Homo sapiens: one gene and its partner. The protein of the gene in region 1 interacts with the protein of each later gene in a biochemical or structural test. Each region holds a gene or a part of one and is shown on either strand. Other genes may lie near its edges. The genes, in order: GLE1 and NUP155.

What was found.
Region 2: the proteins of GLE1 (region 1) and NUP155 form a complex in vitro, tested with the Homo sapiens proteins (2 studies listed by BioGRID).

The regions. Positions count from the first base shown.
Region 1 is NC_000009.12:128,507,350-128,521,122, reverse strand, and holds part of GLE1 (mRNA export factor GLE1), read right to left. Parts: intron 12,248-13,773; coding exon 12,026-12,247; intron 5,595-12,025; coding exon 5,484-5,594; intron 1-5,483. UniProt on the Homo sapiens protein: Required for the export of mRNAs containing poly(A) tails from the nucleus into the cytoplasm. May be involved in the terminal step of the mRNA transport through the nuclear pore complex (NPC).
Region 2 is NC_000005.10:37,359,467-37,376,798, reverse strand, and holds the start of NUP155 (nuclear pore complex protein Nup155), read left to right. Parts: upstream 1-5,692; 5' UTR 5,693-5,821; coding exon 5,822-5,978; exon of another isoform or gene 5,979-6,133; intron 6,134-12,414; coding exon 12,415-12,552; intron 12,553-12,814; coding exon 12,815-12,911; intron 12,912-17,332.

The DNA of each region.
Region 1 (13,773 bases):
GAGATGTCACCAGCAGGGAAAAATCTTCTACATACTTCTGGAAAACAGTCAGTGGAGAAATAGCCAGGTGCACTGGCTGAGATCTGTAATCCCAGCACTTGAGGAGGCCAAAGTGGGAGGATCACTTGAGCCCAGGAGTTCGAGACCAGCCTGGGCAACAGAGAGACCCCCGTCTCTACCAAAAATTTAAAAATTATCTGGCTGTGGTGGTGCACACCTGCAGTCCCAGTTATTTAGAAAGCAGAAAGAGCTGAGGTAGGAGGAATGCCTGAACCCAGGAGGTCAAGGCTGCAAGGAGCGGTGATTGCACCACTGTATTCCAGCCTGAGCAACGGAGCGAGACCCTGTCTTTAAAAAAAAAAAAATAGTGGAGAAGCAATAAATGATAGAGCAGAGCTGAGAAAACCCAAGGATACACACACACACACACGATGTGTGTGAGAAGCAGACGATGCCTCACGGGAGCAGAAAGCCAATCTACCAGCCGAACTGCAGAGTCTCAAGACTGGGAAATGCCACGACTCATATAGGTGGGCCTCATCAGGCTGAAAACGGAGCTACCGGCTAAATGTTTGTAGACAAAACAGTCAACTCTTGCTGTCTTCCCCTAGTCATTAGATCAAAACAGCCAAGAGCCAAGCATTTGTGCTATAATGATTTTATTGTATTTTTTATATATATATACATATATATACATATATACATATATATACATATATACACACATACATATATACACATATACATATATACATATATACACACATACATATATACACATATACACATATACACACATATACATATATACACATATATACATATATACACATATATATACACACATATATACATATATATATATATTTTTTGGAGACACAGTCTCACACTGTCACCCAGGCTGGAGTGCACTGGCACCATCTCGGCTCACTGCAACCTCCGCCTCCCAGGTTCAAGCGATTCTCCTGCCTCAGCCTCCCAAGTAGCTGGGTTTACAGGCATGTGCCACCACGCCCAGCTAATTTTTGTATTTTTAGTAGAGACGGGGTTTCACAGTGTTGGCCAGGATGGTCTCGATCTCTTGACCTTGTGATCCTCCCGCCTCAGCCTCCCAAAGTGCTGGGATTACAGGTGTAAGCCACGGGTGCCCTATTGGGGAACCTGCCCCAATAGTCATGTAGGTTCTTTTCTATTTTCCCTAAGCATTGGCCAGCTTGAAAAATAAAGGGACAGAGTACAAAAGAGAGAAATTTTAAAGCTGGGCATCCGGGGGAGACATCACATGTCGGTAGGTTCTGTGATGCCCCACAAGCCGTAAAACCAGCAAGTTTTTATTAGGGAGTTTCAAAAGGGGAGGGAGTATACGAATAGGGTGTGAGTCACACACATCAAGTACTTCACAAGGTAACAGAATATCACAAGGCAAATGGAGGCAGGGCGAGATCGCGAGATCACAGGACCACAGGACCACAGGACCAGGGTGAAATTAAAATTGCTAATGAAGTTTCAGGCACCACTGTCATTGATAACATCTTATCAGGAGACAGGGTTTTGAGAGCAACCGGTCTGACCAAAATTTATTAGGCAGGAATTTCTTCTTCCTAATAAGCCTGGGAGCGCTATGGGAGACTGGGGTCTATGTCACCCCTACAGTCTACAGACCATAAAAGACGGCCACATGCAGGGGGCCATCTATAGACCTACCCCCAGGCGCGTATTCTCCTTCCCAGGGATGTTCCTTGCTGAGAAAAAGAATTCAGCGATATTTCTCCCATTTGCTTTTGAAAGAAGAGAAATATGGCTTTGTTCTGCCCAGCTCACCGGCGGTCAGAGTTTAAGGTTATCTCTCTTGTTTCCTAAACATTGCTGTTATCCTGTTCTTTTTTCAAGGTGCCCAGATTTCATATTGTTCAAACACACATGCTCTACAATTTGTGCAGTTAATGCAATTATCACAGGGTCCTGAGGCGACATACATCCTCTTCAGCTGACAGGATTAAGAGATTAAAGTAAAGACAGGCATAGGAAATCACAAGGGTATTGATTAGGGAAGTGATAAGTGTCCATGAAATCTTTACAATTTATGTTTAGAGATTGCAGTAAAGACAGGCATAAGAAATTATAAAAGTATTAATTTGGGGAACTAATAAATGTCCATGAAATCTTCACAATCCATGTTCTTCTGCCATGGCTTCAGCCAGTCCCTCCATTTGGGGTCCCTGACTTCCCGCAACAGTGCCCAGCTTTTTTTTTTTTTTTTGGAGTCTCGCTCTGTCGCCCAGGCTGGAGTGTAGTGGTGCAATCTTGGCTCACTGCAAACTCCGCCTCCTGGGTTCAAGCGATTCTCCTCCCTCAGCCTCCCAAGTAGCTGGGACTACAGGTGCCTGCCACCATGCCTGGCTAATTTTTGTATTTTTAGTAGAGACGGGGTTTCACTATGTTGGCCAGGCTGGTCTCGAACTCCCGACCTCGTGATCCATCCACCACGGCCTCCCAAAGTGCTGGGATTACCAGTGCAAGCCACCATGTCCAGCTATTTTATTTTTATTTTTTATTTTTTAGAGACGGATTCTCAACTCTGTCACCCAGGCTGGAGTACAGTGGTGCGATTTTGGCTCACTGCAACCTCCACCTCCCAGGTTCGAGTGATTGTCCAGCCTCAGCCTCCTGAGTAGCTGGGATTACAGGCGTGCACCACTATGCCTGCCTAATTTTTGTATTTTTAGTAGAGACAGGGTTTTACTGTGTTGGCCAGGCTGGTGTCAAACTCCTGACCTCAAGTGATCTGCCTGCCTCGGCCTCCGAAAGTGCTGGGATTACAGGTGTGAGCCAACAGGCCCGGCCCTGTGCTGTAATGATTTTAAAACAGATCTGCAAATTGTCTGACAATCCTTCCATACCCTCTACTTCAACCTGAGTGGACTTTATGACTACCGTGACTAACAGAATACGGAAAAAAAAAAAAATAGGCCAGGCACGTGAGTTTTTTTTAAGAAAATGAATAAACTGTCCAGAAACAGCTAATCAGTATGGGAACTAGTATTCCAAAACAATATGCTGGCACTTAGGAAGTCCTAAAGCTTAATAACCTTGTTTCTGATTATTCCCCTTGAATCTCTGATCTGATTACTAGCAATAAGGATCTTTAGATAACTGAGGAATCTCTATATCCTAAAAGGGATCAAGATGAACAAATAAAAAATAATGAATCCAGAAGGACATGTATATCAAGGAACACAAGTGAATCTGAAAAAGAGCTCTGAATATGATAAGAAATGAGAATAAGATGCTCTGAAAAAGGAAGAAGTGGAGAATACAAAAAAACTCATGAAAATTAGACATAATAAATACATATATATTTTTTCAATCAACAGGTGGAGAATAAAATATAGAAATCTTCTAGAAAACAAAACAATAAGACAAAAGGAAAATGAAAGAAAGAATAGGACATATAGAGGATTAACTTAGGCAATGGAGAGGTGAACTAATCAAGGGGAAAAATTTCCAAAGATGCAGGAAATAAATCTTTGAATTAAAACAACTCTGATATGCAGAATTAGTCGTTTCTCACCATCTCCATTGCTACCACCCTACTCTAAGCAACCACCATCTTTCACCCAGATTACAACAATGTTCCAAATATTTTACTTATTTCTCTTGTTTACTTCTGTCTCTTCCCACCACAATATAAGCTCTATGTCTATAATGTTTACTGTTTTATCTAGACCTGGAACAGCATCTAGCACATAGGTGCTCAGCAAATATTTATTGACTCAATGACCAATGAGGCAAGATGTTAGAAGACTTTCATTTTCTTTTTCTTTTTTTTTTTTGAGATAAAGTATTGCCCTGCTGCCCAGGCTAGAGTGCAGTGGCACAATCTTGGCTCACTGCCACCTCTGCCTCCCGGGTTCAAGTGATTCTCCTGCCTCAGCCTCCCCAGTAACTAGTATTATAGGCATGTGCCACCATGCCCGGCTAATTTTTGTATTTTTAGTAGAGATGGGGTTTCGCCATGTTGGCCAGGCCAGTCTGGAACTCCTTATCTCAGGTGATCCACCTGCCTCACCCTCCCAAAGTGCTGGGATTACGGGCATGAGCCTCCGTGCCTGGCCAAGACTTTCATTTTCTAAATTCCTGTACTCTGAAACATTTTTACAAGATCATGCATTGCTTTCCTAATTAAAAAAAAATACATGCTGGGCGCAGTGGCTTATGCCTGTAATCCCAGCACTTTGGGAGGCTGAGGTGGGTGGATCACCTGAGGTCAGGAGTTTGAGACCAGCCTGGCCAACACGGTGAAACCCCGTCTCTACTAAAAAATACAAAAATTAGCCAGGCGTGGTGGCAGGCGCCTGTAATCTCAGCTACTTGGGAGGCTCAGGCAGGAGAATTGCTGGAACCCAGGAGGCGGAGGTTGCAGTGAGCCAAGATTGCACCACTGCACTCCAGCCCGGGCTGACAACAGCAAGACTCTGTCTCAAAAAAACAAAAACAAAAAACAGGCCGGGCACGGTGGCTCATGCCTGTAATCCCAGCACTCTGGGAGGCCGAGGCGGGCAGATCACGAGGTCAGAAGATCAAGACCGTCCTGGCTAACACGGCAAAACCCTGTCTCCACTAAAAATACAAAAAATTAGCTGGGCGTGGTGACAGGCACCTGTAGTCCCAGCTACTTGGGAGGCTGAGGCAAGAGAATAGCATGAACCTGGGAGGCGGAGCTTGCGGTGAGCCGAGATGGTGCCACTGTACTACAGCCTGGGCAACAGAGCAAGACTCCATCTCAAAAACAAAAACAAAAACAAAATACAATCAAATAAATTAATTAAAATAGTGCTGCTATTTTTTCAAGAGGCTAAGGTCCTGACTGGGCATCGTGGCTCATGCCTGTAATCCCAGCACCTTGGGAGGCTGAGGCAGGTGAATCACCTGAGGTCAGGAGTTCGAGACCAGCCTGACCAACATAGTGAAACCCCGTCTCTAGTAAATAGAAAATAAAGTAGCTGGGTGTGGTGGCGCGAGCCTGTAATCCTAGTTACTTGGGAGGCTGAGGCAGGAGAATCACTTGAACCTGGGAGGTGGAGGTTGCAGTGAGCCAAGATTACACCACTGTAGTCCAGTCCAGCCTGGGCAACAAGAGCAAAAACTCCACCTCAAAAAAAAAAAAAAAGAGGCTAAGGTCCCATTTTCTCAGAATAAGCTTATCTAACAATCCCAGACCATTTCCAAATTTTGGAGAAGTAAATGGAAGCCAGAAAAGGCTAAGTAATTTTCCCAAAGTCACATGTAAAATGTAACAGCCAGGATCTGAAACCAGACTTGACTTCAGAGCACTCACTCCTGACCTCTATTACACTACCCCCAAAACTAAACAGTAGGTGGGAAGGATGAGTAGCATACAGTGCCCATTCCTACGCCCTGGGGAACTGCAGTTAAATGTGGCTCGCAGGATCAAGGCTGCCTTCCTTCATGGGTTCACTTACTGTTCCTTTCATTCTGTGTACCAGTTCGTACATTCGGACGCAGCCTTCCACTTTGATCCCCCGTGAGGACTGAAGTACCATAGATTCTGTGTGCTGGGACTCATCTTTGCCCTATATGAGCAGAAAATGGAAAAATAATTAAAAAATAAGTTTTTAATATGGTAAAGTTGGTGTTATCTCTTCTAGACAAAGACCACATCCCAACTTATGAACAACCACCAATAACAAGAGCAAAAAAAAAATTTAGGTCAGAACTAGTGTGCTTTTCATGAATGACATTGACTTTGTTCTAATTGTTTTCTTTAATAAATTGATGTTTGTTACTTTGGGTGATTTTTTGGGTTTTTCTATGTTTTTTTTGACTTGTTTGTTTTACTCTGCCTAGAAAATGTTTCCCCTTTCTTCAGATCAGTGTCCATTTATCCTGGGATGCTTTGGATGGAGTATCCCCAACCTACATCCCTAAGCTTCCATCCTCCTGGCTTCAGGAGAAAGCTGGCTATCAAAGTACTCTATCCTCAGGCCGGGTGTGGTGGCTCACGCCTGTAATCCCAGTACTTTGGGAGGCAGAGGTGGGCGGATCACAAAGTCAGGAGTTCGAGACCATCCTGACCAACATGGTGAAACCCCGTCCCTACTAAAAACACAAAAATTAGCCAGGCGTGGTGGCACGCACCTATAATCCCAGCTACTGAGGAGGCAGGCTAAGGCAGGAGAATCCCTTGAACCCAGGAGGCGGAGGCTGTAGTGAGCTGAGATCGCGCCACTGCACTCCAGCCTGGGCGACAGAGCAAGACTCCATCTCAAAAAAAAGGCCAGGCACCTTTTTCCCCAGCACTTTGGGAGGCTGTGGTGGGCGGATTACAAGGTCAGGAGTTTGAGACTATCCTGACCAACATGGTGAAACCCTGTCTCTACTAAACATACACAAGACATACCCTGTCTCTACTAAACCCTGTCTCTACTAAACATACACAAGACATACTCTGTCTCTACCAAACATACACAAGTTAGCCGGGCATGGTGGCACGTGCCTAGGCATGGTGGCGGGCGCCTGTAGTCCCAGCTACTCGGGAGGCTGAGGCGGGAGAATGGCGTGAACCTGGGAGGTGGAGCTTGCAGTGCGCAGAGATCGTACGACTGCACTCTAGCCTGGGATACAGAGACTCCGTCTCAAAAAAAAAAAAAAAAAAAGTCTGCTATCCTCCTACACCCAGTATGGACTTGAGGAATGAAAAATATGACCTGAAGGCCAGAGTTCATCTTTGAACTTTTCTAAGTTTTTTTTTTTTTTTTTTTTTGAAACAAGATCTCACTCTGTTTCCCAGGCTGGAGTATAGTGGCGTGATCACGGATCATTACAGCCTGGACCTTCCAGCTTCAATTGATCCTCCTGCCTCAGTCTCACAAGTAGCTGGGACCACTGGCGCACGCCACCACACCTGGCTAATTTTTGTATTTTTTTGTAGAGACAGGGTTTTGTCATGTTGCCCAGGCTGGTCCCAAACTCCTAGTCTCAGGCAAGCCTCCTACCTCAGGCTCCCAAAGTGCTACAATTACAGGCATGAGCCACTATGCCTGGCCTATTTTTTTTCTTTTTCTTTTTCTTTTTTTTTTTTTTTGAGATGGAGTCTCACTCTGTTGCCCAGGCTGGAGTGCAGTAGCGCAATCTCGGCTCACTGCAAGCTCTGCCTCCCGGGTTCATGCCATTCTCCTGCCTCAGCCTCCCAAGTAGCTGGGACTACAGGAACCCTCCACCACGCCAGGATAATTTTTTTTGTATTTTTAGTAGAGATGGTGTTTCACCATGTTAGCCAGGATGGTCTTGATCTCTTGACCTCGTGATCCACCCGCCTTGGCCTTCCAAAGTGCTGGGATTACAGGCGTGAGCCACCGCACCCCGCCTTTTTTCTTTTCTTTTTTTTTTTTTTGAGACAGGGTCTTACTCTATCACCCGTGCTGGCATACAGTCGTGCTATCTAGGCTCACTGCAGCCATGACCTTCCAGGATCAAGGATCCTCCTACCTCAGCCTTCTGAGTAGCTGGGACCGTAGGCATGAGCCATCATGTTCAGGTAATTTTTTTGTAAATATGGAGTTTCCCCATGTTGCGCAGGCTAGTCTCGAATGCCTGAGCTCAAATGTTCCACCTGCCTTGGCCTCCCAAAGTCCTGGGATTCCACACCCAGCTTTTTTATTTTCATTAACACACCTGACATGGATATCTTTGAACTTTTCTGATGAAGCTATCTGGGAATGCTAACCTAAGAAGATGCTGAGTCCAGGGCTACCAGTAGCCATCTTGCCACCTAATCTATCTCAACAATGAAACCAATAACTGAGAAATGGAGAGGCAAAGCCCCATGTTTGGGACACTAGATTGAGTCAAAAATAATCAATCCTATGTGGGGGAGATGTTTGAAAAATAATAATAAATAATGTCAAGCAGAAAGATGCAGAATGTAGATGTTCCTAGATCTAGGTGATTCCAAATGCACTCCTAGACTTCCTAGTTACATGAACTAATTAATACTTCCCTCAGTCCCTTAAGCCAAACTGGGTTTTTCTTACGTAAATACCAAAAATTCCTAAATAATGTGACAATCCATTACATAAAACCATTTAATAATTTATTAGGCCAGGCGCAGTGGCTCCAAAAATTACGGAATTTTATACGTGAAAATAACCTCGGGCTGGGCACGGTGGCTCATGCCTGTAATCCCAGCATGTTGGGAGGCCAAGGCGGGTGGATCACCTGAGGTCACCTAGCCTGACCAACATGGTGAAACCCCGTCTCTACGAAAAATACAAAATTAGCCAGGCATGGTGGCGCGTGCCTGTAATCCCAGCTACTCAAGAGGCTGAGGCAGGAGAATCACTTGAACCTGGGGTTGCAGTGAGTCGAGATCACGCCATTGCACTCCAGCCTGGGCGACAAAAGCGAAACTCCATATTAAAAAAAAAAAAGACCTCAGCAATTTGGTCCAGAATGAGATTTACAGATAAAGACACTGAAGTCCACTGAGGAAAAGAGGCCCACCTGAGGGCACGCCACAATATTGGCAGGATCAGATCAGAATCTGTTGCCAAGAAGCTGCTCATAAAAATACTTTTTAAAAATTTTAATTTTTAAATAATTAATGTTCACAGAAGGTTGCAAAAATACATACAGGAAGGTCGCATGTACTTTTCACCCAGTCTCCCCCAATAGTAATGTCTTTCATAAATACAATAAAATAACAAAACCAGTAAATTGATATTGGTACAATCCACAGAGCTTATTCAGATTTCACCAGTTTTAAAGGCATTCATTTGTGCTTATGTATAGTTCTATGTAATTTTATCACATGTAGATTCATGTAAACACCACCACACTCAAGATACAAAGCTGTTCTATCACCACCAACCACCCCATGTCACACCTATATTTATAGCCTCACCACTTCCTCCCCCATCCCTCATCTCTAAGCTATTCTCCTTCTCTACAGTTCTGCTAATTCAGGAATGTTAAATAAATAAATCTTCACCCAGGCCGGGCCTGGTGGCTCACGCCTGTAATCCCAGAACTTTGGGAGGCCAAGTTGGGCAGATCACCTGAGAACAGGAGTTCGAGACCAGCCTGGCCAACATGGTGAAACCCCGTCTACTAAAAGTACAAAAATTAGCCAGGCATGGTGGCAGGCGCCTATAATCCCAGCTACTCGGGAGGCTGAGGCAGGAGAATCACTTGAACCTGGGAGGCGGAGGTTGCATTAAGCCGAGATTGCACCATTGCACTCCAGCCTGGGGGACAAGAATGAGACTTCGTCTCAAAAATAAATAAAGAAATAAATCTTCACCCAGCCCTAGATTCTGGTTATGTTTTAGTTCTAAAAGGCTTACAGTTTTTTTTTTATGTTTAAGTCCATGATCACGTTAATTTTTTTTTTTTTTTGAGATGGAGTCTTGCTCTGTCGCCCAGGCTGGTGTGCAGTGGCGCAATCTCAGCTCACTGCAAGCTCTGCCTCCCGCGTTCACATCATTCTCCTGCCTCAGCCTCCTGAGTAGCTGGGACTACAGGTGCCCGCCAACTCGCCTAATTTTTTTTTTTATTTTTAGTAGAGAAGGGGTTTGACCGTGTTAGCCAGAATGGTCTTGATCTCCTGACCTAGTGATCCACCCGCCTTGGCCTCCCAAAGTGCTGGGATTACAGGCGTGAGCCACTGCACCCGGCCAAGTTAATTTTTATATAAGGTATGACATTTAGGTGGAGGTTCCTTTTTTTCCTTAAGACGTTCAGTTGCTAAAAATATATATTTTAAAGTACCTAGACCTTTTCTGGCAACAACAACAACAACAAAATCAACATAAATATATATATTTATGTATATTTATAATATATATATTATTTATTTTGTTGTTATTATTTACTCAGTCTCTATATATACATATATTTTGAGACTGAGTCTTGCTCCGTTACCCAGGCTAGAGTACAATGGCATGATCTCAGCTCACTGCAACCTCCGTCTCCCGGGTTCAAGCAATTCTAGTGCCTCAGCCTCCCAAGTAGATGGGATTACAGGCGTGCGCCACGACGCCCAGCTAATTTTGTATTTTTAGTAGAGACAGGGTTTCACTGTGGTCAAGCTGCTCTCGAACTACTGATCTCAAGTGATCCACCTGCCTCAGCCTCCCAAAGTGCTGGGATTACACGTGTGAGCCACCACACGTGGCCACAAAGAATATTTTTTAAAGACTAATATTTTAAAAGATGAACTACTAGATAGAAAAAAAATACTTTCTATGTAAAAAAGAAAAAAAAAAAAAAAACTGGCCAGGCACAGTGGCTCACGACTATAATCCCAGCACTTTGGGAGGCCGAGGTGGGTAGATCATCTGAGGTCAGTAGTTTGAGACCAGACTGGACAACATGGCAAAATCCTGTCTCTACTAAGAATACAAAAATTAGCCAGGCATGGTGGCGCACACCTGTAATCTCAGCTACTTGGGAGGCTGAGGCAGAAGAACCGCGTGAACCCAGGAGGCAAAGGTTGCAGTAAGCCGAGACCATGCCACTGTACTCCAGCCTGGGTGACAGAGCTAGACTCCATCTTAAAAAAAAAAAAAAAAAAAAGCCTGGGTGTGGTGGTTCACACCTGTAATCCCAGCACTTTGGGAGGCCGAGGTGGGCAGATCATAAGGTCAGGAGTTTGAGAACAGCCAGGCCAATATGGTGAAACACCATCTCCACTAAAAATACAAACATAAGCCGGGCGTGATAGTGGGTGCCTGTAATCCCAGCCGCTCAGGAGGCTGAGGTGGGAGAATCGCTTGAAGCCGGGAGGCGGAAGTTGCAGTGAGCTGAAATTGCGTCACTGCACTCCAGCCTGGGGGACAGAGCAAGACTCCGTCTCAAAAAAAAAAAAGAAAAAGAAAATAGCCAAGTATGGTGGTGTCCACACGCAGTCCCAGCTATTCGGGAGGCTGAGACAGGAGGGTGGATTGAGCCTGGGAGGTGGAGGCTGCAGTGAGCCATGTTCATGCCACTGCACTCCATCCTGGTTGACAGAGACAGACCTCAGCTCAAAAAAAAGGGAGGGTGAAGAAGAAGACATGTTCACGTATATTTGTATATACACAAACTACCTCTAGAAGTATATAAAAAGTAATTTTAAAAAACTTCCAAAATTTAACTTTTTTTTGAGATAGGGACTCACTCTGTTGCCTAGGCTGGAATGTAATGGCTTGATCACAGCTCACTGTAGTCTCAAACTCCTGGGCTCAAGTGATCCTCCCATCTCAATGTCCCAAGTAGCTAGGACAACAAGCTCGAGCCACCATGCCTAGCCAATTTTTAAGTATTTTGGAGAGACAAGGTCTCACTATGTTGCCCAGGCTGGTCTTGAACTCCTGGGCTCAAGCAATCCTCTTGTCTTGGCCTTCCAAAGCACTGGAATTATGGACATGAGCCACTGTGTTGGGTCCAATTTAACTTTTTTTTTTTTTTTTGCGTTTAGGAGTGGAGGTTTAATAGGCAAGAGAAAGAGAAAGGAAAATAGTTCTCTCTCTAGTGAGAGAGAGGGGTCTTCTGAGAGGAAATGGCCCCAGTTTAGCATTTTTAAGTGGGAGAAATAACAAAAAAACAGAGGCAGGGACAAAACAGAGCCAGGAATAGGGTAAAATCTCCTACAGAACCAATGAGAGAAGGCATGTAAACTTAAAGAGAAGGTATACATTTCACTCTAAGCCTTCTTCCAGCAGATAACACAAAAAGGGAGACCATATCAGTTAAACAGACGCAGCGTTCATCAGAAAAAAAAAAAAATCCAATTGCTCATGAAATTAGTTATACTATTCTCGGTACTAAGAATAGAGGGGATTTTTCTCCCTCTGGATCTGTCTAAAGAGAACACTGAATGGTGCTGTCAACATTGTCTCTACAACAGCTACAACAATGAGCAATCATTATTTCCCCTAGGGTATGGTCACTGTCATATGACAATATTAAACATTTTGACTTTGCAGCCACCATGTCTTTTGTCTTAAGCTGATCACAACCTTACCTTGGTTCCATTTGGTGTTGCAGGGGAGGCTGGGGAAAAGGCAGAGCTTGCGTCAGGAGATTTGGGAACAAATGAGGGTTGATCTAGGGCTGAAGCTGACGTAGAGGATGGCGAAGTCTCAGACAGAGGTTGGTTCTCCTGCATATGGGGTAGGACGTGCTCTACCACCCATCCAGAATAAGAAGATAGCTTGGGAAGAGACATACATTCTTCTAAAACATCCTAGAGAAAAGAATAGGGTTAAGCTCAACTTACACGTCAACTGTTCTCAGTATAATCCACTACATGCCTTACTGAACATCTAAGAAGGCCTAAATAAATAAACATCAAAGACCCAAAGTAATGTATTAACAATCAGATGAAAACAAAGTACAGTGGTTTCTTGATAATGACCTAGACTACTATCCTTCTAATGAAAATCAGACTAAATAACCCTAACTACAGAAAAAGGGACAATGCACAAAGATTCCCACTAAAGCATATGTGAAAGCAATCTAAAGCACTGAACAGAACACGAGGAATTCTGAAGTAAGCTACTGTATACACAATCAGTAGAATGTCAGTCACTTAACAATGGGGGTAAGTTCTGAGAAACACAGGGTTAGGTGATCTTGTCATTGTGCGAGTATCGTAAAGCATCCTTACACAAACCTAGATGTATATATTTTTTCATTTTTAAAATTAATTATTTTTGAGACAGGGTCTCACTCTGTTACCCAGGCTGGAGTGCAGTGACCTAATCATGGCTCACTGTAGCCTGACCTCCTGGGCTCAAGCTATCCTCCCACCTCAACCAGTCTCCCCAGCAGCTGGGAGTACAGGCATGCGCCACTATATTCAGCTAATTATTTTTTCATTTTTTATAGAGATGGAGTCTTGATATGTTGCCCAGGCTGGTCTTTTTTTTTTTTTTTTTTGAGATGGAGTTTCGCTCTTGTTGCCCAGGCTGGAGTGCAATGGCACGATCTTGGCTCACCACAACCTCCACCTCCCAGGTTCAAGTGATTCTCCTGCCTCAGCCTCCTGAGTAGCTGGGATTACAGGCATGCACCACCATGCCTGGCTAATTTTGTACTTTTAGTAGATACGGGGTTTTCTCCATGTTAGTCAGGCTGGTCTCGAACTCCTGACCTCAGGCGATCCACCCGCCTCAGCCTCCCAAAGTGCTGGGATTACAGGCGTGAGCCACTGTGTGCCCAGCCTTTTTTTTGAGATGGAGTCTTGCTCTGTCACCCAGGCTGGAGTGCAGTGGCACGATCTCAGCTCACTGCAACCTCCACCTCCCGGGTTCAAGCAATTCTCCTGCTTCAGCCTCCCGAGCAGCTGGGATTACAGGTGTCGACCACCACACCCGGCTAATTTTTGTATTATTACTAGAGACAGGGTTTCACCATGTTGGCCAGGCTGGTCTCAAACTCCTGACCTCAGGTGATCCACCCACCTCAGCCTCCCAAAGTGTTGGGATTACAGGCGTGAGCCACCACGCCCGACTATTTTTTTTTTTTTTTTTTTGAGAGACAGGCTCTCATTCTGTTCCCCAGGCTGGAGTGCAGTGGCGTGATCACGGCTCACTGCAGCCTCAACTTTTCATGCTCAGGTAATACTCCCACCTCAGCCTCTCAAGGAGCAGGGACTACAGGCACGCACCACCACACCTGGTTAATTTTTTTGTATTTTTTGTAGAGGTGAGGTTTCTCCACATTGCCCAGGCTGGTGTCGAACTTCTGGGCTCAAGTGATCTGCCCACC
Region 2 (17,332 bases), on another chromosome or scaffold:
CCATCAGAGAGTATTCTCAGGGAAAATGGGAAATGGGTTAACAGTGGGTAAATCTACGGTGCCTGTAGTGTATTCGTTTTTTTGTTTTTTTGGTTTTGATACAGAGTCTCGCTGTTGTTGCCCAGGCTGGATTGCAATGGCGCAATCTTGGCTCACTGCAACCTCTGCCTTCCAGGTTCAAGCGATTCTCCTGCCTCAGCCTCCTGAGTAGCTGGGATTACAGGCATGCGCAACCAGACCGGCCAATTTTTTTTGTATTTTTAGTAGAGATGGGGTTTCCCCATGTTGGTCAGGCTGGTGTCTAACTCCTGACCTCAGGCAATCTGCCGGCCTCGGCCTCCCAAAGTGCTGGGATTACAGGCGTGGCCCACCACGCCCGGCCAAATTCTTACAATTTTATGTTGTCTTAGCATTTATTTTGAATATAAGTTGGACTTTCTCATATCAGAAACAGGGTTCAGTCACCCTTGACACCGTTTCTAGTTCTACACCTCCTCCCAGTTCCTCAATGTGATCAATCCAGGTATCTATTGTGTAAAACTTCCTCCTGGTGCCCGCCTCCCCATAGGATAAATACATACAGCCTACTTCACCGGCCCTGCTGACACTGACGTCCTACATGGACTGTGCAGATATGCCACAGTGACTACCTCGGTCACAGCATGACTTCCAAGAACGGGGTGTCCAATCTTTTGGCTTCCCTAGGCCACAATGGAAGAAGAAGAATTGTCTTGGGCAACACATTAAATACACTAACAACAGCTGAGAACTTTAAAAAAATCACAAATCTCACAATGTTTTAAGAAAGTTAACGAATTTGTGTTGGGCCACATTCAAAGCCATTCTGGGCTGACAAGCTTGTCCTCAAATTTGTGCATGCTTGCTTTAAACCCACCAATTAAAGTGTGGGAATTCCTCTTGGGAAATCTATTTGGAAAACACCATGAACCCAATAAATGCATTGGCTCATGAGTCCCTCTTTGTCTTTCCCTGACTGCATTCCTTGACCTCCAGGTGCGCCAGATGCCCCGCCAGGCATGTAAGTAATAAAATCTTTGTTTATATCTGTGTTTCTACTAATCATTGAAGAAGCATGCTCTATCTTAAAATTCCTAAATTAAAACAGTCCCTTAAAATAAATCAAGGCAGTAGGATTCAAAATGTTGTAGTAGTCACTGTATTTTTCAGTTACATAGGCGTTGTAAGCAAAATCAGTTTCCCTTAGGAATATCCTTAATAAAGCCATAAACAGTATTCATTTCGTTAAACCCTGACCCTTAATTATACGTCTTTTTAACCTTCAGTATGACAAAATGAGAAGTAATCATAAAGTATGTTTTTAAAAAAATTTCTTACAGATGGGGTCTCACTGTGTTACCCAGACTGGAGTGCAGTGGCTATTTACAAGTTCAGTCATGAAGCACTTTAGCCTCAAACTCCTGGACTCAAGCGATCTTCCCCTGCCTCAGCTTCCTGAGTAGATGGGACCACAGGCATACGCCACCATGCCCAGCTAATGCATATCTAAGTAGAATGGTCATCGAAAAGAAAACCACTTGTAATTGAGTGGTTAGCTTTTTTCATGGAACATTATTTTTACCTGAAAGAATGACTCACAAAGTACAGTTGTTCATATTTAAGTATTTGGCAAACATTTTTTCAAAAATAAATGAAATGAGTTTATCACTTTAAGAAAAACAGGTCAGGCATGGTGGCTTACACGGGTAATCCCAGCACTTTGGAAGCCGAGGTGGGAGGATCACCCAAGGCCAGGAGTTCGAGACCAGCCTGGCCAACATGGTGAAACCCCGTCTCTACTAAAAATACAGAAAATTAGCCAGGCGTAGCTGGGTGCGGTGGCTCACGTCTGTAATCCCAGCGCTTTGGGAGGCCAAGGCGGGTGGATCACCTGAGGTCAGGAGTTCAAGACCAGCCTGACCAACATAGTAAAACCCCCGTCTCTACTAAAAATACAAAAAAATGAGCTGGGCATGGTGGTATGTGCCTGTAATCCCAGCTACTCGGAAGGCTGAGGCAGAATTGCTTGAACCTGAGAGGCAGAGGTTGCAGTGAACAGAGATCATGCCACTGCACTCCAACCTGGGCAACAAGAGCAAAACTCCATCTCAAAAAAAAAAAATAAAGAAAAGAAAATTAGCCTGTAATTCCAGCTACTCAGGAGGCTGAAGCAGGAGGATTGCTTGAACCTGGGAGGCAGAGGTTGCAATGAGCTGAGATCGCACCATTGCACCCCAGCCTAGGCGACAAGAGCAAAACTCTGTTTAAAAAAAAAAAAAAACTGACTGCACTTGTTGACAATTATTAAAATACTTCTTCTTTTTCTAAATATGTAACTGAGGCCAGTTTTTCCTTCTTTCTTTCTTTCTTTTTTTTTGAGACAGAGTTTCGCTCTTGTAGCCCAGGCTGGAGTGCAATGGCACGATCTCAGCTCACTGCAACCTCCGCCTCCCAGGTTCGGGCAATTCCCCTGGCTTAGCCTCCCAAGTAGCCGGGATTACAGGCTTGCGCCACCATGCCCCACTGATTTTTGTATTTTTAGTAGAAACGGGGTTTCACCATGTTGGCCAGGCTAGTCTCGAACCTCTGACCTCAGGCAATCCACCCGCCTCGGCCTCCCAAAGTGCTGGGATTACAGGTGTGAGCCAGCGCGCCTGGTGAGGCCAGCTTTTCTTAATATTAATATATTATACTTCAACTAAATAAGTCACAAAATGTTGACATGTTAGACAAAGTAGCAAACATAAAAAACCAAGTTTGCTCATTCTGCTTGCCAGCAGAATTTCACAAAGCCCAACTCAGTGACTAAGTATAGACTTCTAGAAGAATGCCCTGGAAACAATAAGCAGGTTAGAGCACAGGTTCCCACGTCTCTTGCTTCAATCAATGCATTTTTTAAAAAAAGGTAAGTTCAGTGTTCCTACCCCTTGCCTCTTCCAGTACATAAGATAGTGTCCCATAGGATTCATGATTATGCCTCTGTAATCTATAACCAGATGTACTCTTACACCCAAACTTTGATGAGATTTTGCTCTAATGTAATTTATGAGCTTTTTTTTTTTTTTTTTTTTTTTTTTTTAGAGACAGAGTCTCCCTTTATCAACCAGACTAGAATGCAGTGGCATGGTCATGGCTCACTGCAACCTGGAACTCCTGGGCTAAAGTGATGCTCCTGCCTCAGCCCACCAAGTAGCTGGGACTACAGGTCCACACCTGGCTGCCCAGGTTGGTTTTGAATGCCTGGCCTCAAGAGACCCTCATGCATAGGCCTCTCAAAGTGCTAGAATTACAGGTGTGAGTCACTATACCCAGTTTATGAGCATGTTTAATGTAATTTCTGAGCACATGCAGAGCTTCCAACCCCTGACATGTAAGCTGTGGGCTAAAAGCTACTTTGGAGCAGTCTTAACAGAAACTCTCTGAAAGGTTGCAATCCTGAGTCTGAATCAAACTGACTTTAATTCTTTAAAAGAGGGTTATTTTTCTTCAATTGACAGCAGATACAGATATGAGAATCCAGCCATCCGTTACTGAGCCAGACACTAAAGAGATTTGCAAAAATATGAAATAATCGCATTCTTCTCCCTGTTTTAGAAACTATAGTGATTTCTCATTTTAAAAAAGTGTTATATTAACATGGATTAAGCTTGGTATGCTTTTTTTTTTTTTTTTTGAAACGGAGTCTTACTCTGTTGCCCAGGGTGGAGTGCAGTGGCACGATCTCGACTCACTGCAACCTCTGCCTCCTAGGTTCAAGTGATTCTCCTGGCTCAGCCTCCTGAACAGTTGAGACTACAGGCGCACGCCACCACGCCCAGCTAATTTTTGTATTTTAGTATAGACGGGGTTTCACCATATTGGCCAGGCTGGTCTCCAACTCCTGAACTTGTGATCCACCTGCCTTGGCCTCCCAAAGTGCTGGGTGCTGGGATTACAGGTGTGAGCCACTGTGCTCGGCCTTGTTACTCTTTTAAATACAATGTTAAACATTTTAATTTTCAGTTTGAGTTATTCACAAATATTAATAGATGTAACCAACATGAAACAAAAACTCTCTGGAATCCTGAATAATTTTTAAGGGTATCAAGGGGGTCCTAAGACCAAAAAAATTCATAATTATCTGTTCTAGGGAAGAGGTCAGCAAACTTTTCCTGTAAAGTGCCAGAGTCCGTATTTAAGGCTTTGCAGTCTTTTGTAGAAATTACTCGGTTTAGCAGTTGTAGTGGGAAAGCATAGGCAATATGCCAATGAATTAAGTTAGTTAGATTACACTTTGGGGAGCTTTACTTCTATGCAGGAATATCACAGCAACGTTGTTGAATCTTCCAATTTATGGAGTTGAAAACTTTGTGTATTTTGTCTCAAATTAAAAACAAACTCGGTGCCAGACCACCACTTTTCAATCTATGGTCTACCAAATAAAGTAAACTCACAGCTAGAGACCCAACTGCCTATCTATATACCAATGATAAAAAATCCAGTTTTTCTTGGTATATTGGCTATGTCAAATTTTAAGTGTAGATTGGTAACATCAAAGAACTTTCAATTTTCAGAAATGTAGTCAAGTCTTTGAGGGAGTAAAAATGTAATTCAAATAGCAAAAGACCAATTTAGAGTAATTCAGTTATTGATTTGTGAAATTCTGAAGAACATAACTGGAAGCTTTCTTAGGTGAGATTCTAAATAAGAGCAGCTTTCTAAAAAGTGCTTTGATTTACCCACTCAGGTTGCCTTCTGTAGTAAATGAAGCCTCTTTTACCTCTCTGCTTTCTCCTATCCTGCTATAGTTTATACCTATCCAAATAGAAAAATTATAATGAAGCCCTTTGTCTCTGCTTGAAGCACCTTAAGGACAGGAAACACTGTGTTAGTTTGATAGTCCCAGCACCAGGCACAAGGCAAGTATTCAGTTTCTTAGGATTGTATGAACTCTTGGGTTCCTATCTCATACGAGTTCCTATACTAGCGCTGGGAATGGAAAGATGAATTAGAACTGTCTGCTATCTCTGCCACGATAAAAAGCACGGCAGCGGTCCACCTGCACTCAGCTTCTTCTTAAACACGTATTTTATACTAAGGGGCAACAAAGTCAAAAGACAGCGACACGCAAATGGAAAAGCCTGATGAATTCTAATTTACACTGAAGCCCGCGAAGAATATAGTGAGATACTGGTTTATATCCCTCTCTGTGACAGCGACCTACCAATTCTTAACTACTCTCACAAAAGCAGTTACTTGGAGAACCAAACTGCGCGCTCATGCGCGAACTCATATAGCTGCAGTTAGCGGATACCGACGCGGGAAGTTCCAAGACTCAGGTCGAGCACGCGCTTAAACCAACGGAACCTGACCAACCTCCTAGGCCAGACACACGACCTAGCTCCCACCTACCGTATCCCTCCTCCCTCCTTCCTCCTCACCCTATCCAACCCCATCCCGCCCCTCTCCTTCCCTGTTCCCTCCCCTTTATCCTTCCCTTCCTTTCCCTCCCTCCCTTCCCTAAATAACCTACCCTAATTTTACCCTGCCACACCCCAAAACCCTCAACCCCCTCGAAAGCATCAGCAGCCTCCTAGCTCCACCCACAACCTCTAGCCCCCTCCCAACAGCTTCCTCTTCCCAGGCCAGAACGGCGTCTTCCAGTTCCCCACCGGATGAAGCGGAAGTGCGTCATGTCGAGGCGCCAAGGCGCTCGTTTGGCGCGCGCGCCCTAGGCGGCGGATCTAAGCTAACTTCTTGGATCTTTTCTTGTTTCTCCTTGGTTTTTGACTTTTTCTGGACCCTGGTGTCTACGATTTCCGAGATGCCGTCTTCTTTGTTGGGCGCGGCGATGCCGGCCTCTACATCTGCCGCAGCCCTGCAGGAAGCTCTGGAAAATGCTGGACGGCTCATCGACCGTCAGTTGCAAGAGGACCGCATGTACCCGGACCTTTCCGAGCTGCTTATGGTGTCTGCCCCAAGTGAGTGATAGTGACCCTGCTTTCTCAACCTAAAGGACTCTCGCCTGACTTCCTAATTTGCTACTTATCCCCAGCGTTGGTCCCGGCGAGGATATGCTGAGATTTATGGCACTGTTGGCTGCATTTTTGGAGAACAGCAAGCAGCTTCTTTTCAGGTTTTTTCCTTTCCTCACTTTCTTCATTGTAGATACTTGAGAGGGCAAGAGTGAAGAGCAAGCTCCCAGTTGAAGCAGAAAGAGGCAAAGACCTCAACCTTAATGAGCTTCTCGCCGCTCTCAAGTGCTTATGGCTAAGGCCATATGAGAAGCATCTCCAGATCCAAGTCCCAAATTTGTTCATTTCTCCTGTTAGTGTTTGAGTAGATCGTAAGAGCAAACGAAGTTAATTTGGAAATTTAGCATGTTATCTTAAAGATACGCTTTGCTTTATATTTATTTGTTTATTTATTGAGACGGAGCGGTTCCCTCTTCGCCCAGGCTGAAGTGCAATGGCGCGATCTCGGCTCATTGCAACCTCCGCCTCCTGGGTTCAAGCGATTCTTCTGCCTCAGACTCCCAAGTAGCTGAGATTACAGGCGCCTGCCACCAAGCCCGGCTAATTTTTGTGTTTTTTAAGTAGAGACGGGGTTTCACCATATTGGCCTGGCTGGTCACGAACTCTGACCTCAAGTGATCCGCCCGCCTCGGCCTCCCAAAGTGCTGGGATTACAGGCGCAAGCCACTGCACCCGGCCAAGAAACGCTTTATTATGTGTAGAGATGTGTGTTATGAAATGCTGGAGGATCTTAAAAGAACTACCAGTGGAATAAAGAAAGAGAACAGGGAAATCACAGTGCTTATGTACAGGGAGAGTAAGGCAGAATATGTGTTGACAATATAGGTGACTGGAAAGTAATTTGTTTAACAGTTTTAAGTTATAACCAGCTCCCCACGGCTTATGGAATTACATCAGTTGCTAGAAAAAGTGACCCCTTTGTGAGATGGAATTTGGAGAAAACCAGCGAAGTGTAAGAAAGAAAAGATTGTTGGTGAGCAAGAACCAAAGTAATCTAAATAGGATAATTTGTGCAGTGTAAACCGAGAACACTTCTGATTATTTATAAAAATCATTGATAGCTTTGTAATCAAAGAAATGATAGAAACAAAGATAGTATTTGCTCCCTACAGCTACTTACCAATGAGCGTGTCTTATAATACCTGATTGGCCTATTAGCAATTATCATCTTGAACAACATTACTCATTTTGGCCTCCTTAGGTGTGAAAACAAGATATAAAAACAGTGCATGCATTCTGGTCCTTCTCTTACATATCTCATGCCTTTACACACACCTTCCTCTTTCACCCAGTCTCTTCCCCTTCTTTTCCATCCAATTTTTCATCCGTTGCTCTGATTACAGAGAATTTAGCATATTTTCCGTAAGAAGCCCCATCTTCAGGATTTCCTCAGGATTTTATCTTACTTTTATTGTTTCTGCAATGTTCTTTTTTTGCCTGACAAACTTTTTCCAGACTCCCTGTGAAAGTCCTTAGTTTCTCTTTGTTGTCTTTCTTTTTCTTGTTCTTTTTTTTTGAGTCAAGGTCTAGTTCTGTTACCAGGCTGGAGTGCAGTGGCATGATCACAGCTCATTGCAGCCTCTAACTCATGAGCTCAAGTGGTCCTCCCGCCTTGCCCTCCCCAGTAGCTGGGACTACAGGCGCCTGCCACCACACCCAGCTAATTTTTAATTTTTATGTAGAGACGTAGTCTCACTCTGTTACAAGGCTGGTCTCAAATTCCTGGCATCAAGCAGTCCTCCTACCTCAGCCTTCCAAAGTGCTGAGATTACAGATGTAAGTCACACTCCTGGCCTGAAGTCTTTCGTAGCATTCCCATCCTCACTAAAGTTATCGATTCCTCCCTCTGTGTTCCCACTGCCATTTAACATGGTGATCTGCCACCTTCGGCCTATTAAAGTTATGTTTTAGGATTAAATGGGATGTCTGGATTTGCTTTATTTATTTATTTTTTGAGACAGAGTCTTACTGTCACCCAGCCTGGAGTGCAGTTGGCATAATCTTGGCTCACTACGGCCTCCACCTCCCAGGTTCAAGCGATGCTCCTGCCTCAGCCTCCTGAGTAGCTGGGATCATAGGTGTTCGCCACTGGCTCATTTTTCTATTTTTAGTAGAGACAGGGTTTCACCGTGTTGGCCAGGTTGGTCTTGATCTCCTGACCTCATGTGATCCGCCCGCCTCGGCCTCCCAAAGTGTTGGGATTACAGGTGTCACCCACTGTGCCCAGCCTGGATTTGCTTTAATATGAATTCAGCCCAATAGTCTCAGCACTTTGGGAGGCCAAAGTGGGCAGATTACTTGAGCCCAGAAGTTTGAGACCAGTCTTGGCAATATGGCAAAACCCAGCCTCTTAAAGAAAAGAAATACAATAATACAAAAATTAGCTTGGCATGGTGACACACACTTGGACCCCCAGCTACTTGGGAGGCTGAGGTGGGAGGATAACTTGAGACGGGGAGGTTGAGACTGCAGGGAGCTGTGATTGCGCCGCTGCACTCCAGCCTGGGCAACAGAGTGAGACCCTGTCTCAAAAAAAAAAAAAAAAAAAAAAAAAAAAGGCCTGGCGCTGTGCCTCATGCCTGTAATCCTAGCAATTTGGGACCTGGAAGTGGGGTGGATCACTTGAGCTTGAGTTTGAGACCAGCCTGAGTGAGCAACATGGCAAAACCCTGTCTCTACAAAAAGTGGCTGGGTGCGGTGGCTCACGCCCATAATCCCAGCACTTTGGGAGGCTGAGGTGGCAGATCACGAGGTTAGGAGTTCAAGACCAGCCTGACCAACGTGGTAAAACCCCGTCTCTACTAAAAATACAAAAATTAGCTGGGTGTGGTGGCTCATGGCTGTAATCCCAGTTATTCAGGAGGCTGAGGCAGGACAATCGCTTGAACCAGGGAGGCGGAAGTTGCAGTGAGCCGAGATCGCGCCACTGTACTCCAGCCAGGGCAATAGAGGGAGACTCTTTCTCAAAAGAAATGGGAGGCCCAGGTGGGCGGATCACGAGGTCAGGAGATGAGACCATCCTGGCTAACATGGTGAAACCCCCATCTCTACTAAAAATACAAAATAATTAGCCGGGCGTGGTGGCGGGCGCCTATAGTCCCAGCTACTCCGGAGGCTGAGACAGGAGAATGGTGTGAACCCGGGAGGCGGAGCTTGCAGTGAGCCGAGATCGCGCCACTGCATTCCAGCCTGGGCGACAGAGTGAGACTCCGTCTCAAAAAAAAAAAAAAAGGAAAAAGAAAAATGCTGTTTGGCTGGGCTCGGTGGTTTACTCCTGTAATCTCAGCAATTTGGGAGGCAAAGGTGAGTGGATCACTTGAGGTCAGGAGTTTGAGACTAGCCTGGCCATCATGGCGAAATCCTGTCTCTACTAAAAATACAAAAATTAGCCGGGTGTGGTGGCACACTCCTGTAGTCCTGGCATCTCGGGAGGCTGAGGCAGGAGAATCTCTTGAACCTGGGAGGCAGAGGTTGCAGTGAGCCGCCATTGCACTACAGCCTGGGCGACAGAGCGAGAGCCCATCCCAAAAAAAAACCCCAAAAACAAAAAAAAAATTAGCTAGGCATGGTGTCATGACACTGTAGTCCTAGCTACTCACGAGGCTGTGGTGGAAGATTGCTTGAGCCCAAGAGGCTGAGGTTGCCCTGAGCTGTGATTGCACCACTGCATTCCAGCCAAGGCGACAGAGTGAAACCCCGTCTCAGGAAAAAAAAAAAAAGAGAAAAAGAGTTCGGCCGGGTGCAGTGGCTCACATCTGTAATCCCAGCACTTTGGGAGGCCAAGGCAGGCGGATTACGAGGTCAAGAGATTGAGACCGGCCGGGCACGGTGGCTCACGCCTGTAATCCCAGCACTTTGGGAGGCCGAAGCGGGCAGATCACGAGGTCGGGAGATCGAGACCATCCTGGCTAACACGGTGACACCCCGTCTCTACTAAAAATAAAAAAATTAGCCTGGCGTGGCAACAGGCGCCTGTAGTCCCAGCTACTTGGGAGGCTGAGACAGAAGAATGGCCTGAACCCAGGTGGTGGAGCTTGCAGTGAGCTGAGATCAGGCCACTGCACTCCAGCCTGTGAGACTCCGTCTCAAAAAAAAAAAAAAAAAGATTGAGACTATCCTGGCCAACATGGTGAAACCTTGTCTCTATTAAAACTACAAAAATTAGCTGGGCGTGGTGGCTCATGCCTGTAATCCCAGCTACCCGGGAGTCTGAGGCAGGAGAATCCCTTGAACCAGGGAATTGGAGGTTGCAGTGAGCTGAGATCGCGCCAATGCACTCTAGCTTGGCGTCAGAGCGAGACTCCGTCTCAAAAAATAAAAATAAAAAGATAATTGGGGAAGGAGTGAACAATGATAAAAATGAAACATGATTGGGGATATTACTGGTTATTAAGTTGGATAATCAGTACATGGGTATTTATTGTATTTTTCTTATATATATTTTAAAAATTTCCATAATACACTTCAAGATTGTTTTATATGTCAGTTTTCCTTAACATCTTTGTACTCTATAGAACCTGAGAAAGTGCCTGAGATAAGTAGGTCATCAGTCAGGTCTAAATAACGCCTTGTCCGGGAGCAAGGGTAGGCTGAGTAGACCAGCCCACTCCTGTCCTTAGTGATGGAGTCTTAGAGCAAGAGAAAGGTTGCCCATGAGAACACTTTATAGAGCAGTCTTTGTTTTTATCCCCCCAATAAGATACTGCTTGTGGGGTATTATTTGTATTTGTCTTAGTGGTCTTGGGGATAAATCTAAAGGGAAAAGTCATGGGTTGTTTTAATCTATAAATGTTTAGCTGGTAAAGGCAGTATTTTCCCCCAGTCATTATTTTGTTTGCTTATAGTCATTTTACCTTTGAGCCCCAAAGCAGTTTTATATTTTCCCATTTCAGATTAGCAAAATGATAGAAAAACACTAAATTATTATTTTTAAATTTTTTTATTTTTAATTTTGTGTGTACATAGTAGGCGTCTGTGTGTGTGTGTGTGTGTGTGTGTGTGTGTGTGTGTGTGTATATATATATATATTTTTTTTTTTTTTTTTTTTTTTTTTCTCCCCGAGACAGAGTCTTGCTCTGTCACCCTGGCTGGAGTGCAGTGGCACGATCTTGGCTCACTGCTGCCTCCGCCTCCCAGGTTCAAGCAGTTCTCCTGCCTCAGCCTCCCAAGTAGCTGGGATTATAGGTGCTTGCTACTGTGCCTGGCTAATTTTTTTGTATTTTTAGTGGAGACAGGGTTTCACCATTTTGGCCAGGCTGGTCTTGAACTCCTGACCTTGTGATCGGCTTGCCTCTGCCTCCCAAAGTGCTGGGATTACAGGCGTGAGCTACCGCGCCCAACGGTGTATATATTTATGTGGTGCATGAGATGTTTTGATACAGGCATGCAATGTGAAATGATCACATCAGGGAAAATGGGGTATCTATCCTCTCAAGCATTTATCCTTTGTGTTACAAACAATACAATTACATGCTTTCATTTTGTTTATTTATTTATTTATTTATTTTTGAGACAGAGTCTTGCCCTGTCGCTCAGGCTGGAATGCAATGACACAATCTCAGCTCACTGCAACTTCCGCCTCCCGGGTTCAAGCAGTTCTGCCTCAGCCTCCGCAGTAGCTGGGATTATAGGCGCACGCCACCAGGCAGGCTAATTTTTTGTGTCTTTAGTAGAGATGGAGTTTCACCATGTTGGCCAGGCTAGTCTCAAACTCCTGACCTCATGATCCTCCTACCTCGGCCTCCCAAAGTGCTAGGATTACAGGCTTGAGCCACTGCGCCCAGCCACTTTTATTTTAAAATAACACTAAATTATCAAATTTAAACATTTCCAGCTGGGCACGGTGGCTCACACCTGTAATCCTAGCCTTTTGGGAGGCCGAGGCGGGCGGATCATGAGGTCAGGAGATCAAGACCAGCCTGGCTAACACGGTGAAACCCCGTTTCTACTAAAAATACAAAAAATTAGCCGGGTGTGGTGGCGGACGCCTGTAGTCTCAGCTACTTGGGAGACTGAGGCAGGAGAATGGCGTGAACCCGGGAGGTGGAGCTTGCAGTGAGCCGAGATTGTGCCACTGCACTCCAGCCTGGGCGACAGTGCGAGACTCTATCTCAAAAAAAAAAAAAATAAAATAAAATAAACATTTCCTTTGTTACAGAGCAAGTTTTTTGAGATATGACTTTCCCTTTAGGCCTGAAACCAGTAACTGTTCCTACCTTCACAAGGGAATATTTCAGGACTACTTTGTGTTGGGTCAAAACTAGAATATTCTCTCTGTACCTTTGGAACCAACACACAACAATTTTTTTGTGGCACTCAATCCTTTTGTTTGCCCGGTTGATGAGCAGTACATTATTATAAATACTTCATTTTCTTTTTGTAGATAATCCCACCGTTTCTGGCATGTCAGATATGGATTATCCTTTGCAAGGACCTGGTTTGCTGTCCGTACCCAACCTTCCAGAGATCAGTTCCATCCGAAGAGTTCCTCTCCCACCTGAACTTGTTGAGCAGTTTGGACGTATCCTATTACTTTGTATTTATTTTAAAAATGTTAAAATTGGTATTTTTCATTCTTATAATTCTTGTTCTATGTTTAATTAATGTGTTATATATTCATTTAAGGGTTTTATTTAAAATTCGTTTAAGTATATGGGTTCCATGTTGTATTAAAGAGTGGACACATTGTGATTTTTTACGTAAATATTAAGTCAAAAGCTATTGAAACAAGTTAAAGAAGAATAAGATTCACCTCTGTCTGCCTTACATCCACACTACCTCAGATATGCAGTGTAATTGCATGATGGGTGTGTTCCCTCCTATCAGCAGAGCTTGGCTCACAATTGACAGTGATATATTCATGTGGAACTATGAGGATGGGTATGTATTTAAGGCTGGTTTGCTTTAAGGGTGATTGGAATTTATATAAACTTTACTGTAGCTAGTGTTCTCATTAGAAGCTGCTTGGTTTATCTTTCATTCATCTAGCCTTTGGGTCAGTGCTTCTCAGTATCAGTCATCTGGAGATGTTCAAATGTGCATTCTGTCTTAGTAGTCCTGAGTGAGGCTCAAGAGTCTGCATTTCTAACAAGCTGCCAACTGCTGCTGCTGGTTTAGGTGCCATTCTTGAGTGGCAGGAGCCCGGGTCCCAAGCTGTTAGCCCGTAGTAAAAATAGATGTTGGCAATTCATTGAGAGATGATTGGACATTTTTAAAGACTTCTGTTTTCCTTGCATTTCTATGGAGTAGGCATGTGATATTTATTTATTTTGTTGTCATTTTGTGAATTTGACCCGTGTGTAAATTATATGTATAGAAATGATTCTGAGTGAAAGCCTAAGGTACTTTTGCTTAAATACAGCATGTTGGTCTGGTGATCTCCCTGTTGACTTTTTAGAGATAGATTTTGTTTTACTTCCAGTTGTCCATTACATTATCCTTAGATGAGGTGTGGGATAAACATAGGAAAGCCCATATAATTAAGATGTTACTCTTGTTCCTGAGTAATTAATGATCTTTTTAGGAACACACGTGCATTAAAAAGACACTGTATCGGCCGAGCACGCTGACTCAAACGCCTATAATCCCAGCACTTTGGGAGGCTGAGGTGGGTGGATCACCTGAGGTCAGGAGTCCGAGACCAGCCTGGCCAACATGGAGAAACCCTGTCTCTACTAAAAATACAAAAATTAGCCAAGTGTGGTGGCACATGCCTGTAGTCCCAGCCACTCGGGAGCTGAGGCAGGAGAATTGCTTGAACCTGGGAGATGGAGGTTGCAGTGAGCTGAGATAGTGCCACTGCACTCCAGCCTGAGTGACAGAGCGAGACTCCATCTCAGAAACAACAACAACAAAACACTGTATTATTGAAACAAAATTGAAACTAAATGACAGCTTAACACCTATAGCTTAAACGAAACCATTTTTTTCTACTAGAAGTTTCGTAGCAATTTTTCATGTTGAAATGTAATAGTTGTAATAGCAGTGATGTATGATTGTGATTATTTTTCATGTACCCTGAATGTTCCCCACTTTGTTATGTTACCATAACATATTCATTTTTATACTAAATAATGAAACCTTTTTTGTTTAGGTATGTATCTTTTCAAGAGAAGTCATTGCAAAAATATTACAGAACAGATAAATGTGAGAATAATTGTTTTCTTTAAAATATGTTTTCGGCTGGGCATGGTGGCTCATGCCTGTAATCCCAGCACTTTAGGAGGCCAAGGCAGGCAGATCACCTGCAGTCGGGAGTTCGAGACCAGCCTGACCAACATGGAGAAAGCCCATCTCTACTAAAAATACAAAATTAGCCTGGCATGGTGGCACATGCCTGTAATCGCAGCTACTCGGGAGGCTGAGGCAGGAGAATCACTTGAACCTGGGAGGCGGAGGTTGTGGTGAGCCGAGATCGCGCCATTGCACTCCAGCCTGGGCAACAAGAGGGAAAACTCCATCTCAAAAAAAAAAAAACACTAATGAAATTTTTTACATTTCCATTAACATCCAACATATTTATTTAACACATACATATTGATCTTATGTATCTGACACTGTTGTTGTGGTAGGAACAGTACTGAATGAGATGAATGTAGTTCTGCCCTCATGGAACAAACAGTCCTACCTTACTGTGTGTCTTAGTCCGAGCTGCTAAAACAGAATACCATAGCCTGTGATCAACATGAATTTCTTTCTCATGGTTCTGGAAGCTGGAAGTCCAAGATCAAGGTCTGGTGAAAGCCCACTTCAATGTTCATAGATGGCTATCTTTTCACTCTGTCCTCACATGGCAGAGGGGTAGGGGAGTTCTTTGGGTCCTCTTTTATAAGGGCACTAATCCCATTCATGAGATATACCCTCATGACCTAATAACCTTTCAAAGACCCCACCTACAAATACTATCACATTAAGAGTTAGGATTTAATATGAATTTTAGGAGGACACAGATATTTGATCCATAGCAGTGTGTGTTCATTTAAAGAAAAATTATTTGAAGAATGTACTTATTTTAAAAAATCAAGGCACAAGGTCCACAAATTCAATTTTGTAAAATTTATACTTAGTTTAAATATTCAATTGGCTTTCTATTATAAATCCTAATTCCACCTGGATGATAAAAATGTAATCTTGGTCATTTCATTGTTCTCTAACCCCCAAATATCTCAGCATTGGATCGTAGTTCCAAGAGGCTGTGCCAGTTATCAAAGGGCCCTGTGGAATGGCATGATGTAAGAGGATGGGGAATCCTAGTCCGCATAAGTTGCCATTTAGCTATTTTGTTCCTGTGTGGATGGCCTTTTCAGGATGACTGGAAGCTTTCTTGAAAGTCTAGATCATATTTTTTCGTGGTATTTTTTCTGCTTCTTGTTCTCTGAGCTTCTTAGATCTTTAGTTTGATGTCTTCTATTATTTTTAGAATTTTTTTCAGCTGTTATCTTTATTTCTCTCTCTCTCTCTCCTTTTCTGTTCAGCCATTGTCTTTTTTTTTTTTTTTTTTTTGAGACAGAGTCTCGCTCTGTCGCCCAGGCTGGAGTGCAGTGGACTATCTTGGTTCACTGCAACCTCCACCTCCTGGGTTCAAGCACTTCTTGCCTCAGCCTCTGGAGTAGCTGGGACTACAGGTATGGGCCACCACACCTGGCTAATTTTTGTATTGTTATTAGAGATGGGGTTTCACTATATTGACTAGGCTGGTCTTGAACTCCTGGCCTCCAGTGATTTGCCCTCCTGGGCCTCCCAAAGTGCTGGGATTACAAGCATGAGCCACCGCACCCAGCCCAGCCATTATCTTGAAATATTCTGATACATTCTCTTTCTTCAGAAATTTCAGCTATACTTTTGTTATATACCTCATTTTGGATGCTCCATTCTGTTTTTTGTTTTTCCACTTTCTGTCTCTATCTCCCTGTTTTTTGGGAGACGGAGTCTCAAAGTGCTGGGATTACAGGTGTAAGCCACTGCGCCTGGACCCCCCCCCCTTTTTTTTTATCTCATTCCGTTGCTGAGGCTGGAGTGCAGTGGCATGATCTCGGCTCACTGCAGCCTCAACCTCCTGGGTTCAAGTGATTCTCCTGCCTCAGCCTCCCGAGTAACTGGGATTATAGGCATGCACCACCACACCCGGCTAATTTTTGTATTTTTAGTGGAGACGGAGTTTCACCGGGTTGGGCAAGCTGGTCTCGAATTCCTGACCTCAGGTGACCTGCCCACCTCAGCCTCCCAAAGTGCTGGGATTACAAGCGTAAGCCACCGCACTTGGCCTTCATTGGCTTTTTTTTTTGAGACTGAGTCTCATTCTGTTGCCCAGGCTGGAGTGCAGTGGCAAGATCTTGGCTGACTGCAACCTTCTCCTCCCTGGTTCAAGTAATTCCCCTGCCTCAGCCTCCTGAGTAGCTGGGAATACAAGCGTGTGCCACCATGGCCAGCTAATTTTTTTTTGTATTTTAGTAGAGACGGGGTTTCACCATGTTGGCCAGGACGGTCTCGATCTCCTGACCTCGTGATCCACCCGCCTCAGCCTCCCAAAATGCTGGGGATTACAGGCGTGAGCCACCACACCCAGCCTCGCTGACTTCTTATAATTTTTATCTTTTTGTCGAAATTCTTTACCTATTTTTTTTTGTCTGTTTTATTTCTCCCTTTTTTTTGAGACAGAGTCTCGCTCTGTTGCCCAGGCTTGAGTGCAGTGGTATCATCTTGCCTCACTGCAACCTCCACCTCCCAGGTTCAAGTGATTTTCATGCCTCAGCCTCCGGAGTAGCTGGGATTACAGGCCTGGGACACCATGCCTGGCTAATTTTTTCTATTTTTAGTAGAAACAGGTATCATTGTGTTGGCCAGGCTGGTCTTGAACTCATGGCCTCAAGTGATCCACACGTCTCAACCTCCCAACTTTACCTATTTGTACATATAGTCAATTAGGTAATTTTTCCTATATAAAGCCTATATGTATAGTTCATAGTTACTTTACATTTCTTGTCTGATAGTTTGGATTCATAGCTGAGTCTGGTTCTATTGATTACTTTGTTTCTTGACACTGGGGTTTTTTTTCTTGTTATTTTGTGTCTCATGATTTCTTATTGAAAGCCAGAAATCATGTTAAGACAGTAGATACTGTAAGTAAGTAGCAAGTGGTATTTATTCTTAGAAATGGGCATGTCTTTTCCTTGGCTAAGGTATAGCAGATCTTTATTATATGGGGAATTGCCTTTTTCCAGGTCAGGACTTGAGCTGGATTTGGGTTCTGTTGTTGTACTTAGGGTGCAAGTTGGTTTACTGGAGATTTTTTCTCAGTGTTC